Linked DNA regions of Homo sapiens. The protein of the gene in region 2 interacts with the protein of the main gene of each other region in a biochemical or structural test. Each region holds a gene or a part of one and is shown on either strand. Other genes may lie near its edges.

Region 1 (7,000 bases), on a different chromosome or scaffold from region 2:
GGCCTTACTAACAAGCTTGGCTTGCTGATTCCCTAGGCCTTATCTGATCCAAAGCTGCAAACTGGAAAGAGTTCAGTTTAAGAAGATAACCAAATACTTGGGGGTTATTTGTGGAGATAATGATTAGAATGTAAAAAGCCTTGACACTTTCAGTGAAGTTCACTGTAGTGTTGTGGTTAAAATCCCAGCCCCTGCTGTGAGACAGCCCTGGGCTCAAATTTTCTCTTTTCTACACTCATTAGTTGTACAACTCTGGGTTTTTGGAGTGTCTCCTCATCTATAAAGTGGGGGGATAATAGTACCCACCCCACAGCACTCTCGTGAAAATTAAATGAATAGCTGGGTGTGTTGGTGTGTGCCTGTCCCAGCTACTTGGGAGGCTGAGGTGGGAGGATCCCTTCAGTCCAGGAGGTTGAGGCTGCAGTGAGCTATGACTGTGCCACTGCACTCCAGCCTGGGTCACAGAGCGAGACACTGTCTATAAACACACACACACACACACACACACACACACACACACACACGCACACACGCACACACACTGAATGCTTGACAACTGTCTGGTAGAGTCACTTGTCATCTCCTGAACCTACTTTCCCACCCGTGATAGGAGGAAGCTGGGCTCCAGATGGTCCCAGTGTTCATCCTGAGCTGCAGAGCTCTGCTCTGTCCCTGATGCTCTGAGCCCTGCCCATCAATCAGGCCAAGATCAGTTCTGTGCTGGGCTGTATGGCCTGGAGCAAAGAGTTAGGGAGACGTGGGGCCCAGAGTACCTGGGTGACCCTGTCTTGCCTTTTCTTCTGCAGATATTGCTGTGGGAGCTCCGTTTGAAGGCTTGGGCAAAGTGTACATCTATCACAGTAGCTCTAAGGGGCTCCTTAGACAGCCCCAGCAGGTACAGAGAGACGGGGATGGGTCTGCTGCCCCCACCAGCCGAGATGGGCCTTCCTTGCTTTCCTTCACCCAACCCTTCCCTGTAGCCCCCTGGGCCCTGCTCCCCAGAGCCTGCCCCCACCACTTTCCCCTGCCCCCAGGTAATCCATGGAGAGAAGCTGGGACTGCCTGGGTTGGCCACCTTCGGCTATTCCCTCAGTGGGCAGATGGATGTGGATGAGAACTTCTACCCAGACCTTCTAGTGGGAAGCCTGTCAGACCACATTGTGCTGCTGCGGTGAGCCAGGAGGCCAGTGAATAAGGGTCTTTCTCTTCTTCATCTTTGTCTGCACAGATTCCCATCTGTGTCCATGTTTGCGCTAGCTCCTTGGAAGCCTGGGCCCCAACTCTGGCCTGGGGCAGGCAGGAGGCACTGATATCTGTCTGGCTCTGTTGTCTCTGCAGGGCCCGGCCCGTCATCAACATCGTCCACAAGACCTTGGTGCCCAGGCCAGCTGTGCTGGACCCTGCACTTTGCACGGCCACCTCTTGGTGAGATTGTTCTGCCCACCTACTCCTCATTTATTTATAGGGAGGCTAGGAGGGGCTGCAGCTCCCAAACCCCTCCCCTGGCCTCCTGACATCCCACCTTTAGAAATTTGATTCTTGGGGCCAGCATTTGCCCTCTCTACCCAACCTCATTAAAAAGCAAAATTCCTTGTAAGAGGTAATGGATGAAGTCGGGGGCAGTAGAGTATAGTGGTTCAAGGTGGGAGCTCTGGACGGCCTGGTTCAAATCCCAGCTATGCCAGTGCAGGGGTGGGGATGGGCTCTGGAAAGGGGGACGCATTTAAGTGGATGGATATGGAGGAGAGTCTCCTCAGGTGAATTATTAATCCCTCTTAGGCTCAGATTTCTTGCTTGTAGAACAGAATTGATAATAACTGATTCACAGGGTTGTTGTGATAATTAAATGAGAAAATATACAGAAAGTCCTTAGCACAGCACTGTGTATACCCTAAGTGCTCAAAAAATGTTAGTTGCTAAGAAAGTGACAGTAATGATGGCGATGACCCCAAGGTCTTTAAGTGAATGAGGATTTTGGATCAGAAGACAAAGGCAGACAGAGCAGGGAAATGGGGTGGTTGGTGCAAGGAGACCTGGACTGGGGATTGGCCGACCTAGGTTCAAGACTGGGCTGGGCCACCAACTGACTGAGGACTTCAGACAAGTCCTTCTGGGCCCTAGGCCTCAGTTTCCCCATTAGTGACCTCTAACCCTGTTCTCTTTGGCTTTAAGGGGAGTGGAAGGGAAGGGGTCAGGGACACCACAGACCTGCTTTGTGGACTCCCCAGTTTTGTCCCTGCCTCTCTCCAGAAGGGCCTCGGTTTCCTTTTGCCCAGTACAGAGGCGAGAGCTAGGGCCTGGACGTGTGTGTCCCACTGTGACCCGCCCTCCTGTACATCCCTCCAACAGTGTGCAAGTGGAGCTGTGCTTTGCTTACAACCAGAGTGCCGGGAACCCCAACTACAGGCGAAACATCAGTGAGTGCTGGGGTGCAGCGTAAAAGGGGTACGCTCCCCTGTCCCCTTGCTGACCACCCTGTCTACCTGTAGCCCTGGCCTACACTCTGGAGGCTGACAGGGACCGCCGGCCGCCCCGGCTCCGCTTTGCCGGCAGTGAGTCCGCTGTCTTCCACGGCTTCTTCTCCATGCCCGAGATGCGCTGCCAGAAGCTGGAGCTGCTCCTGATGGTGAGGGAGGAGCAAGGGTCAGGATGAGGGCTCCCAGGTCCCTGGAGGAGGTGGCCAGTGTCCCCCTAGATCAAGGGTGAGGGACGGGGGTCTCCCCAGAGACAGAGGTTGGGGACATCGGTTTGGAAGGCTATTGGTGTGTAGGAGTACAGTGTACAGCACCCACACATGAGGAGTGATGGAGACCCTTGGGGTGGGGATGGGGCCAAAGGGCTTATTACCTCCAAGGAAAGTGAGGAGTGTGGGAGCTCTTGGCTCAGCCCACCTCTGGGAAAAGGGGTCCCTGAGTAGGGAGCAAGGTCAGTCCCTCTCTGGGACATCAGGGTGGAAGGGGAGAGCTCAACCTGGAGACCCTGTGGATGGGGAGGTGAAGGGACTTTTGAGGAGGAGAAGCCCTGTCTCTCCTCTTGGAGGGTCAGGATAGTAGGAAGTCGCAATTTGGCGACCGGACTGGAGGGAGTTCAGCCTAACTGTCAGGTTTTCAGGGTGGGGGGCGGGTCCAGCTCTTCTCTGGGGTTCAGGGTGGTGTGAGGATTCAGCTGGGGCAGGGAGCAGTGCAGGGCCGGGCTCAGCTCACCCTCTCTCCCCAGGACAACCTCCGTGACAAACTCCGCCCCATCATCATCTCCATGAACTACTCTTTACCTTTGCGGATGCCCGATCGCCCCCGGCTGGGGCTGCGGTCCCTGGACGCCTACCCGATCCTCAACCAGGCACAGGCTCTGGAGAACCACACTGAGGTGAGTGGGGCTGGCGCCTGGACTGGAAGACCAGGGGCCAGAAGGGCGGTGGGGCGAGAGGGCACTGGGGGGGGTGGTGCGGCCTTCACACCTCCGGCCACCCCCCAGGTCCAGTTCCAGAAGGAGTGCGGGCCTGACAACAAGTGTGAGAGCAACTTGCAGATGCGGGCAGCCTTCGTGTCAGAGCAGCAGCAGAAGCTGAGCAGGTGGCTGTGGGCCGCCGGCCGCGTTAATCGGCCAAGGGTGGGACGGGGCCTCATTAACTGGCAGGGTGGGGGCGGGGCCTCATGGCAAGGCGAGCCCAGGGACAGGGCTTTAGCGGGAACAGGTGGGATGGTCAGAAACGGGGCTTTCTCCTCCAGGTGCGACTAGAGGACGGGGCCTGGCTGTCCCAAGATGGGCTTTTCTCACCTAGGAGACCCCAGGGGCGGGGCCTAGTTGATCCGGGAGTGCCCTGGGGGCGGGGCTCTTGGCTGAGTCCTGGGCTCCTGCTCTCAGGCTCCAGTACAGCAGAGACGTCCGGAAATTGCTCCTGAGCATCAACGTGACGAACACCCGGACCTCGGAGCGCTCCGGGGAGGACGCCCACGAGGCGCTGCTCACCCTGGTGGTGCCTCCCGCCCTGCTGCTGTCCTCAGTGCGCCCCGTGAGTGCCCGCCGGCCGGCTCAGAGCCCAAGCAGGGCTCCCCGCGTCTTTGCATCCCCATATCCATGTCCTGTGCAGGTGTTGTCGTCTGCCACGTGCCCACCTCCTCTGGTCTGGGCCTTCTTGGGGGCCTTAGCGTCTCTGCTGCTTGGAGAATCCGGCTCTCAAGCTCTAGGGCTTCTGACCTTGCACCACAGAGGAGGGAGGACAAGCCCTACTTTGACCCGACCCTGACCTTATTCGCCTTCTTTCCTCAGCCCGGGGCCTGCCAAGCTAATGAGACCATCTTTTGCGAGCTGGGGAACCCCTTCAAACGGAACCAGAGGGTGAGCACCGGCCACATCCTCCCAGTCCTCCTGGGTCCCTGGCTGCACCTCTGATGAGCTCCTTGTCCTTCCAGCCTCTGCCTGCCTGCTTTCTGGGCTCCCTCGAAGTGGAGAGCCACAGTGCGGGAGGAGAGACTCAGTAGAGGGTGAGAAGAGGCCCAGAAACTAAGACAAATGGGGCTGCTAGGGAGCTGTGCACAAAGCTAGAGCAGGTGGAGGGGAGGAAACCAGTTTGACCAAGCACCAACTGTGTGCCAGCCCCTGAGCCCAACACTGTGCTTCTTTGATATGATATAATTCTCACAGCCTTCTGAGGAGGTAGATGCTCTTTTACAGAAGAGGAAACACACACTTAGAAAGTTTCAGTTACCTGCTCAAGGTTATGTAGCTCAAAAGTAGCAGAGATGTGACCTGATGGAGAGAAAGGGGGAAAGGGAGGCAGAGGTGGGGTGGGGAGGTAGAGACCCCTCACCCAGAATAGGAGGAGGAGGAGAAGGCCAGAAAGCCAACTAGAATAGTGTGCATCCCCTCCTTCCCCATGACATCACCCCCGCCAGGCCCCATATGCCACTCTCTGCCTCCCTGACCCTTGTGGCAGATGGAGCTGCTCATCGCCTTTGAGGTCATCGGGGTGACCCTGCACACAAGGGACCTTCAGGTGCAGCTGCAGCTCTCCACGTGAGTGACCTCGAAAAGCCAGTCTGGGTCAGGGCTGAGGTATCTTGGATCACCTTCCTAACCCCTGCATTTCCTCCCAAGGTCGAGTCACCAGGACAACCTGTGGCCCATGATCCTCACTCTGCTGGTGGACTATACACTCCAGACCTCGCTTAGCATGTGGGTACCGCTCTCCACCACCCCCACCCCAGCCTGCTGTGCCTAAGCTAGGGTTCCCTATCCCCAAGCTATCTCCCAAACTCCTCTGACCCCTCTCTTGGCCCAGTGTCCTCAGGCCTCCACTTTCCCTGGATCATCCTTTTCTTAACAACAACAATCACTATCGTTACCGTTACTATTCCCCCTGTAAAGCAGGCAGAAATGGAGGAATCAGCAACCCCGGGGCTAAGGTGTTGTCCCTACCATTTTATAAGAGCTCATTGTGCTAAGGATTTTATATACATCATCTCAATGACTTCTCACAGCAGCCCTGTGATACAACAGCTATGATTAAGTCCATTTTACAGATGAGGAGACTGAGGCTCAGAGAGGATAAATAGCTTGCTTGAGTCCATAAAGCTTGTAAATGCAGAGCTGAGGTTTCTATTGAGGTGACTGATGTCAGAGGGGCTATAGTTAGCCAGCTTTGGTGCCCACCCCCCTCTGCCAGGGCCCTGGTCTCTTGTCCCCCGTGACTCCAGCATCCTTCTTACCCCTAGGGTAAATCACCGGCTACAAAGCTTCTTTGGGGGGACAGTGATGGGTGAGTCTGGCATGAAAACTGTGGAGGATGTAGGAAGCCCCCTCAAGTATGAATTCCAGGTAAGGGGCTCGCCAGAGTCCTGGGCTGGGGACTTCTAGGAAGGATTATTTTTATTTTCTCTGGGGTCTGAAGGTGGGAGGGTTGGGGGTTGGTAAGATGGAGGTGGTTTTCCAGGAGATAATGACTATGACACATCTTGTGCCCACAGGTGGGCCCAATGGGGGAGGGGCTGGTGGGCCTGGGGACCCTGGTCCTAGGTCTGGAGTGGCCCTACGAAGTCAGCAATGGCAAGTGGCTGCTGTATCCCACGGAGATCACCGTCCATGGCAATGGGTCCTGGCCCTGCCGACCACCTGGAGACCTTATCAACCCTCTCAACCTCACTCTTTCTGTAAGGACACTATCAGGGATATTTCATTTGCATGCTACAGGGCAGAAAGGCCAGTGTCTTCCCCTCCCTCCCCTCATACCCCTTTGGCAAGCTGTCTCTCCTACCCTTTCCTTTCCTGCAACCCTGCTCCCAATTCTTCCTCTGCCCTGCCAGCAAATCTCCTATTTCCTCTCCAGGACCCTGGGGACAGGCCATCATCCCCACAGCGCAGGCGGCGACAGCTGGATCCAGGGGGAGGCCAGGGCCCCCCACCTGTCACTCTGGCTGCTGCCAAAAAAGCCAAGTCTGAGACTGTGCTGGTGAGTGGCCAGGGCGAGGTTGGAGGGGATTGCATCCACCCCATCACAGGGTGCCTGGGCACCAGGGGCACACAAAGCAAGGGAGACCTCAGTGTGATGAGGTGATGAGGCCCCTGCTCTTGGGAGCCTCCAGACAGAGCAGGGAGCCTCATCTCCTGCCCTCAGAGGGTTCTCCACTCTGATGGGGGAGGATTGAAGACAAGGGACCAAAGGAGGAGGCACTGGCTCTGCTCCAAGGAACCCCAGCCTGTTGGGGGCGATAGAGCTGCTCAGAGCTTTGGCCGGCAGGAGGCGGTGTCGGGCAGGGCAATGGTGGGTGGTGCGTGTGCCCTCTGCAGGAAAGGAGAGGAGAGCGGGCCTGGCAAGCCGGTTGAAGCCTAGCTGGGTGGAGAGTGGGAGGTGGTGTCCCAGGGGCAGGGAGCTGGCTGGGAAGCAGGTGTAGGCGGTTGGGCCCTGTTTACACAAGCAGGGGCCAGATTCCATGTTATCCATGTGCCTGGCATTATATGAGCTTGGCCCAAAGAGTGTGTCTGAAATGCATAGCTGTGAGGT
Region 2 (7,115 bases):
CGCAGTATTCACTCTGGCAAGGGGGCAGCCGCTATATCTGGGTTTGGAGAAAGCTACATCTGGGGTCAAAGGCAGCTACATCCGGGGTCAGGGGCAGCTATATCGAGGGTCAGAGGGAGCTGCATCCAGGGTCAGAGGGAGCTACATCTGGGGTCAGAGACAGCAGTGGCATTGGTAGAGTAGCAGAGACACAGTACCATCTGTGTCCAGTGGTGACAACAGATGCCTCTTCATGGGAACCGTCCTACAGTATGCTTGTGTATCTGTGGCTACCTATTCTCCAAGCCTGGTTCTTCATCCTGCTAGAGATTCTGAGAACTCTGCACTATCATTTAGCAAATTCCTTTTCTGCTTAAAGAGTTGGCTTCTGTTGCTTGTAACTACAAACCCTGACCAATTCAACATCTTTAAAAAAAAAAAAAATGGGGGTCAGGCGCAGTGGCTAACACCTGTAATCCCAGCATTTTGGGAGGCGAAGGTGGGCAGATCACTTGAGGTTGGGAGTTGAAGACCAGCCTGACCAACGTGGAGAAACCCCATCTCTACTAAAAATACAAAATTAGCCGGGCATGGTGGCACATGACTGTAATCCCAGCTACTCAGGAGGCTGAGGCAGGAGAATCACTTGAACCCAGGAGGCGGAGGTTGCAATGAGCCGAGATCGGGCCATTGCACTCCAGCCTGGGCAACAAGCAAAATTCAGTCTCAAAGAAAAAAAAAAGGGTGGGGGAGCAGTAAAGAAGAGTCAAAGAAATGCTTCAGGAAAATGGGATAAGGAATTCTAACTGAGGTAGCCAAAGACAGTTTATGAAGAAGATATGATTTCAGTTGCCACTTCAGGTAGAAATGGCAGTTTACAAAAGCAGAGAGGCAGGAAAAGACAAGACCCATCTTCTCTCAGCACGCAGTCAGGGAGTAGTTAAAGAAAGGTACAGCCAGGGTCAGATTTTAGAGTGACATACGAAAGAAGTGTTTAGGAACAACAGTCCAGTGGGGGTGAAATAAGCCAGAGGTCAGGAGGTCATCTGGGTGACTGACTGCTGCCATAAGCCTGGCGTGAAACGATAAGGACACATTCCAGGTCAGTGGCAATGGCCCTGGAAGAGCAGAGAAGTCCAAGAGATGTTTCAAAGGAAACTGTCTACATAAGGCCACTAAATACATGACAAAGCTGGGGAGAAAACAGGTTTTTTGTTTTTTGTTTTTTGTTTTTCTTGAGATGGAGTTTCACTTTTGTTGCCCAGGCTGGAGTGCAATGGCGTGATCTCGGCTTACTGCAATCTCCGCCTCCCGGGTTCAAGCGATTCTCCTGCCTCAGCCTCCTGAATAGCTGGGATTACAGGTGCCTGCCACCACGCCTGGCTAATTTTTTTGTATTTTTCGTAGAGATGGGGTTTTACCAAGTTGGCCAGGCTGGTCTCGAACTCCTGACCTCAGGTGATCCACCCACCTCGGCCTCCCAAAGTACTGGGATTACAGGTGTGAGCCACCGCGCCTGGCCTGGGAGACAGGTTTCAGGAGGAAGATGACGAGTTTAGTTTGTAATACTTGGTGTGAAGCGTTGGCAGAGCATCTGAGAGCAAATCTGCTAAGACTTGGAGACTCAGAACCACACGCTAGGTGAATGGCCAGAGCACACATTTAAAAGTCAGGGTAAAGATCATTTGTAAAGATATCAAAGTAGATAAAGAAATCGAAAAGCAGGACAGGTCAGGCAGCAAAGGCTCGGTGGTTTCTAAAATTAGGAGGTATGCAGAAAAGAATTAACATTGGCAGGCCTGACTGCTGTCCTGGAAAGGCCTCCTTACGAGGCAGGCCCCTGGCTGGTGTCTGGGAACTTGGGATTTGGGAAGGGCACCCACCAACCTAACTGGTAACGGGGATTTCCTGTACCTGAACTGTTCATGCAAATAATATGGTTATGCTAAACACCTGCTTTCCTTCTGGGGGACCAGAATTTTTTGATATGTGTGAGGGTGCTTATGTGACCAGCCTCCAGTAAAAACCCTAGGCACTGAGGCTCTGATGAGCTTCCCTGGCAGTCCACATTTCACAAGTGTTGTCACAACTCCTTGCTGGAGGATGTAAGCACATCCTATGTGACTCCACTGGGAGGCGACCTTGGAACTTGCACTGGATTTCCCCTGGAATTCACCCCAGGTGCCTTTCCGTTTGCAATTTTGCTCTATATCCTTTCACCGCAATAAATCATAGGCACAAGTACAACTCTATGCTGGTGAGTCATCAAAACTGGGTGTGACCTTGGGGACCTCAACATGGGGTGAGAAGAGAAAGGAGAGAGAAGAATCAGTCAGGCCAGGGCAATAATATCAAGGGAGTCAATGGATTTATAAATTTCAGTAAGAGGAAAACTGTCAATATCTTTAACATTGAAGAAGCTAAGAAGGATCCAAGCAAATAAAGATAATAAAATGGGGCCGGGCGCGGTGGCTCACACCTGTAATCCCAGCACTTTGGGAGGCTGAGATGGGTGGATCACAAGGTCAGGAGATCGAGACCATCCTGGCTAACATGGTGAAACCCCGTCTCTACTAAAAATACAAAAAAATTAGCCAGGCGTGGGTGGCGGGCGCCTGTAGTCCCAGCTACTCCGGAGGCTGAGGCAGGAGAATGGTGTGAACCCGGGAGGCGGAGCTTGCAGTAAGCCAAGATCATGCCACTGCACTCCAGCCTGGGCGACAGAGCAAGACTCTGTCTCAAAAATAAATGAATAAATAAATAAAATAAATAAGTAAAGAAAATGGATCATACCCTCTGACCTAGTGATTCCACTTTTACAGATTTATCCTACAGAAATACGTAGCACAGGCACACCAAGATGCACACACAAGGATGTACACTATAGCACCGGATATAATCGCAAAAAGACACAGCCCTTCACAAGGGACTGCTTACATAAGTTTTACTGCTAATTATGCAGCTGTTAAAATAAATGAGGAAGTTCTAAATAAAATGACATTTCCAAAATAGGTCAAATAGAAAAAGCAGGGTAGAAAACAGTTTATACGGTAAAATGCATGCACGTAAAGAGACAGGATATATAAAAGGTGATATACACAACACACACACTTTTGGATATTCATAAGTATCTCAGGAAGGATATATTTCTAAAAACCAGTAAAAAGTGATTGCCCTTGGGGAGTAAAACTAAGTACCAGGGTAGAAGGAAAATGCATGTTTCACTGAAACTCTTAAATACTGTTTGAATTTTAAAAAAATGATTTGCACATATTATCTTTAAATTTTTTTAAAAGGAAAAGCCACTGGTTTGGACATAAATGTAGTTTAAAATTTTGAAGACAGACTATCTTCCAACTATTGGGTGCTAGGAAACAAGGGAGGAGGCAAAAGTTAAACAGCAGAAGGATCCTGCTGCAGAAAACTGCAAGAGGAAAGCTGGTTTGGGAAGGAAGATGCAAGTTTGGTTTTGAACTCCTAGTCTTGAAGGGCTGGCTGAGCAACTGAGAGTTGGGGGTTCACATTAGGTGAAAGGTTGGAACTGGATACATATGGAAAAAAAAATCTATGAGTGATCGGTAAAGACATAAAAGAAAGAGACATTAAAGACAAAATTTCACTAGTAAAACCAAAAAAGAAAAGAGAGTGAAAAATCAGAGGGCAGAGCCTTAGTGAGGAAATCCACTCTCAGTCAGGAAGGCAGGCAGCAAAAAGAGAAGAAAAACAGCACAAAGGCTAGAAGGTATCTCACAGGTTACAAAAGAAAGACTTGACTGTGTTGTGTTTTAAGACTAAATTGTAAGGTAAAAAAGGAGTACTTAGAATACTAAGCAGAAAAGGATAAACATGGAAGCAAGGTTCCTAAGAAAACTGGGTACCAGGTAGGATTTATGTTGACAAGCAACTTATTAACTTGGAGTAACAACCAATTCTGTTTCATTTCTAAATGATTTCTTAACCAGCTAGCATTTAATCATATCTTAAGAACTCTATAAACAATAGCAAAATTAAATATATAGGTAGATAATGAACTGCCAAACAAGAAATTTCACTGGCAGCATTCCTGGTATGAAGTAAAGATACTGTCTTCCAAATTATTCATTCAAATTCAATAGAAAGAAAAGTAAGTGGCCAGCCACGGTGGTTCACGCCTATAATCCTAGCACTTTGGGAGGCCGAGGCGGGCGGATTGCCTGAGCTCAGGAGTTCGAGACCAGGCTGGCCAACATGGTGAAACCCCGTCTCTACTAAAATACAAAAGAACAATTAGCGGGGCGTGGCGGTGTGCGCCTGTAGTCCCAGCTACTCGGGAGGCTGAGGCAGGAGAATTGCTAGAACCCAGGAGGCAAAGGTGGCAGTGAGCCGAGATTGCACCACTGCACTCCAGCATGGGCAATAGAGCAAGCCTCCATCTCTTAAAAAAAAAAAAAAAAAGAGAAGAAAGAAAAAAAAAAAAAAACAGAAAAGGAAGCCTAACTTTTTTTTTCTTTTTTTTTTTTTGAGATGAAGTATCACTCTGTCGCCCAGGATGCAGTGCAGTTGTGCAATCTTGGCTCATTACAACCTCCACCTCCCGGGTTCAAGTGATTCTCCTGCCTCAACCTCCCATGTAGCTGGGATTACAGGCCACCGCCACCATGCCCGGCTAATTTTTGTATTTTTAGTAGAGACGGGGTTTCACTGTGTTAGTCAGGCTGGTCTCGAACTCCTGACCTCAAGTGATCCTCTCGCCTCGGCTTCCCAAAGTGCTGGGATTACAGGCATGAGCCGCAGCACCCGGACTCTGACTTTTTATTTTTATTTTTGAACATGGTTCTTGCTCTGTCACCCAGAATGAAGCACAGTGTCAAACTCACAGCTCACTGCAGCCTCAACCTCCTGGGCTCAAGCAATCCTCCCACCTCACTCTTCCTCATAGCTGGGACTACAGACATGCGCCACAATCCCCAGTTAATTTTTGTATTTTTATAGAGAGACAAGGTCTCACTATGTTGCTCAAGCTGGTCTTGAACTCCTGGGCTCAAGTGATCCACTAGCCTTGGCCTCCCACAGTGCTGGAATTACAGGCATGAGCCTCTGGACCCAGCCTTAGAGCCTGACTTTTTTAAGTCTTGGAATTCTATCAGTTGAACTAGTCAAAGAAATATACTAAATAGGGAAAAAAATACATAGGCCAGTTGCAATATTTACTTCATCTTTTCCAAGAAAACTTAATGTGGACAGTTGGTCTAACACCAATGTGGACCAAAATATTAGAAATAGGCCAGGCATGGTGGCTCATGCCTGTAATCCCAACACTTTGGGAGGCCGAGGCGGGAGGAGTGCTTGACCAGACTGAGAAACATGGCAAAACTCTGTCTTTACCAAAAAAAATACAAAAATTAGCCAGGCATGGTGGTGCATGCCTGTAGTCCCAGCTATTTACAAGGCTGAGCCCAGGAGGTGGAGGTTGCAGTGGGGTAAGACTGCACCACTCCACTCCAGCCTGGATGACAGAGCGAGCCTCTGTCTTAAAAAAAAAAAAAAAAAAAAAAATTGGAAACATTAATGAAATAAAAATTAAAAAGTGGCGGTGTGTTTATAATGCCTAATAAAGAATACAACAGACAATAAATATATTTACTTATTGAACCTATCAGTAACAAAACAACCATGATTCAAGAAAACAGGTTTTGTGTGTGGGGGGGTTTTTTTTTTTTTGAGATGGAGTCTCGCTCTGTCACCCAGGCTGGAGTGCAGTGGCACCATCTCGGCTCACTGCAACCTCCGCCTCCCAGGTTCAAGTGATTCTCTTGCCTCAGCCTCCCGAGTAGCTGGGATTACAGGAGGCTGCCATCACGCCTGGCTAATTTTTGTATTTTTAAGTAGAGACGGAGTTTCGCCATCTTGGCCAGGCTGGTCTTGAACTCCTGACCTCGTGATCCACCTGCCTCGGCCTCCCAAAGTGCTGGGATTACAGGTGTGAGCCACCATGCCCAGCTGAAAACCGTTTTCCTAAGTCTAGCTTATAAAATATACTAATTGATTATCTTTAAATAACTAAGTTGGCCAGGCATGGTGCCTCACGCCTGTAATCCCAGCACTTTTGGAGGTCAAGGTGGGCACATCACCTGAGGTCAGGAGTTTGAGACTAGGCTGGCCAACACTGTGAAACCCCATATCTACTAAAAACACAAAAATTAGCCGGGCATGGTAGCACGTGCCTGCAGTCCCAGCTACTCAGGAGGCTGAGGCACTAGAATTGCTTGAACCCGGGAGGCAGAAATTGCAGTAAGCCGAGATTGCATCATTTCACTCCAGCCTGGGTGACCAGAGGGAAACTATATCTCAAAAAATTAAAAAAAAAAAATTAATTGAATAAATAAAATAAGTTATTTACAGCCTTTTTTTTTGGAACATTGAAAGGGCAACTAGCTACAAATGAGAGAAATTCAGTGCAATACAGGCCCTTTATACTATAAATATTTTACAGCAGTGAAACGTAAAGAGAGCGCAAAATGTTTTTGCCATTCAGTTCAGTCTACCTCTAACCTTTCCGACTCTTTTGTGAGAACTGATAATAAAACAGAGAATTTTGAAAAGAAAGAAAAAAAAGCTATTTGCCAAAAATATCTCCCTTGGAAATGCATTATCCTCAGAACAGCATCCAGCCCATGCCACAAGACTGAAGGCATTTTCTGCTCTAGCGCAGAACTACTTCTCCAGATCCCCTTCCTCAAGAAATGAAGTCTACTTATTTTTGTTCCACCTCAATAGTTGAGAGTACTGACCCCAGAAACTACAGGAATCAGCAGTATGCTAGAATCAAGATATGCACGAATTTTACCTATAAAATTATCTTCTTTTCTGTGTGAAGGGCAGAAATGAACAGTGTAACCTTTATCCATTCTCCCAGCTTGAGCCAAGATGATACTTCAGACACCCGTGGCAGGCAGCCTAGTTTGTTGTTGTTGTTGTTGTTAAGATCTTTGCAGGAAATCAGTTTACAACCTTGGGATGTTTTTAACTCTAACATGCGCAAAGTCATCTTAAATGTCTCACAAGCTTCCGCTTCAGGAAGTCATCTTTTTTAAACTTACTACCACTGAAAGGCTATTTCTCCTAAAACTGACTTTGCTTGATACAGCAGCGATACC

What was found. Proteins that work in one complex are often made in the same cells at the same time.
Region 1: the proteins of LGALS8 (region 2) and ITGA3 form a complex in vitro, tested with the Homo sapiens proteins (one study listed by BioGRID).

Annotation. Positions count from the first base shown.
Region 1 is NC_000017.11:50,073,110-50,080,109, forward strand, and holds part of ITGA3 (integrin alpha-3 preproprotein), read left to right. Parts: intron 1-806; coding exon 807-895; intron 896-1,034; coding exon 1,035-1,171; intron 1,172-1,338; coding exon 1,339-1,425; intron 1,426-2,349; coding exon 2,350-2,417; intron 2,418-2,489; coding exon 2,490-2,626; intron 2,627-3,216; coding exon 3,217-3,366; intron 3,367-3,474; coding exon 3,475-3,572; intron 3,573-3,864; coding exon 3,865-4,012; intron 4,013-4,269; coding exon 4,270-4,338; intron 4,339-4,895; coding exon of another isoform or gene 4,896-4,936; coding exon 4,937-5,016; intron 5,017-5,097; coding exon 5,098-5,175; intron 5,176-5,714; coding exon 5,715-5,817; intron 5,818-5,966; coding exon 5,967-6,149; intron 6,150-6,325; coding exon 6,326-6,448; intron 6,449-7,000.
Region 2 is NC_000001.11:236,526,946-236,534,060, reverse strand, and holds part of LGALS8 (galectin-8), read right to left. Parts: intron 1-7,115.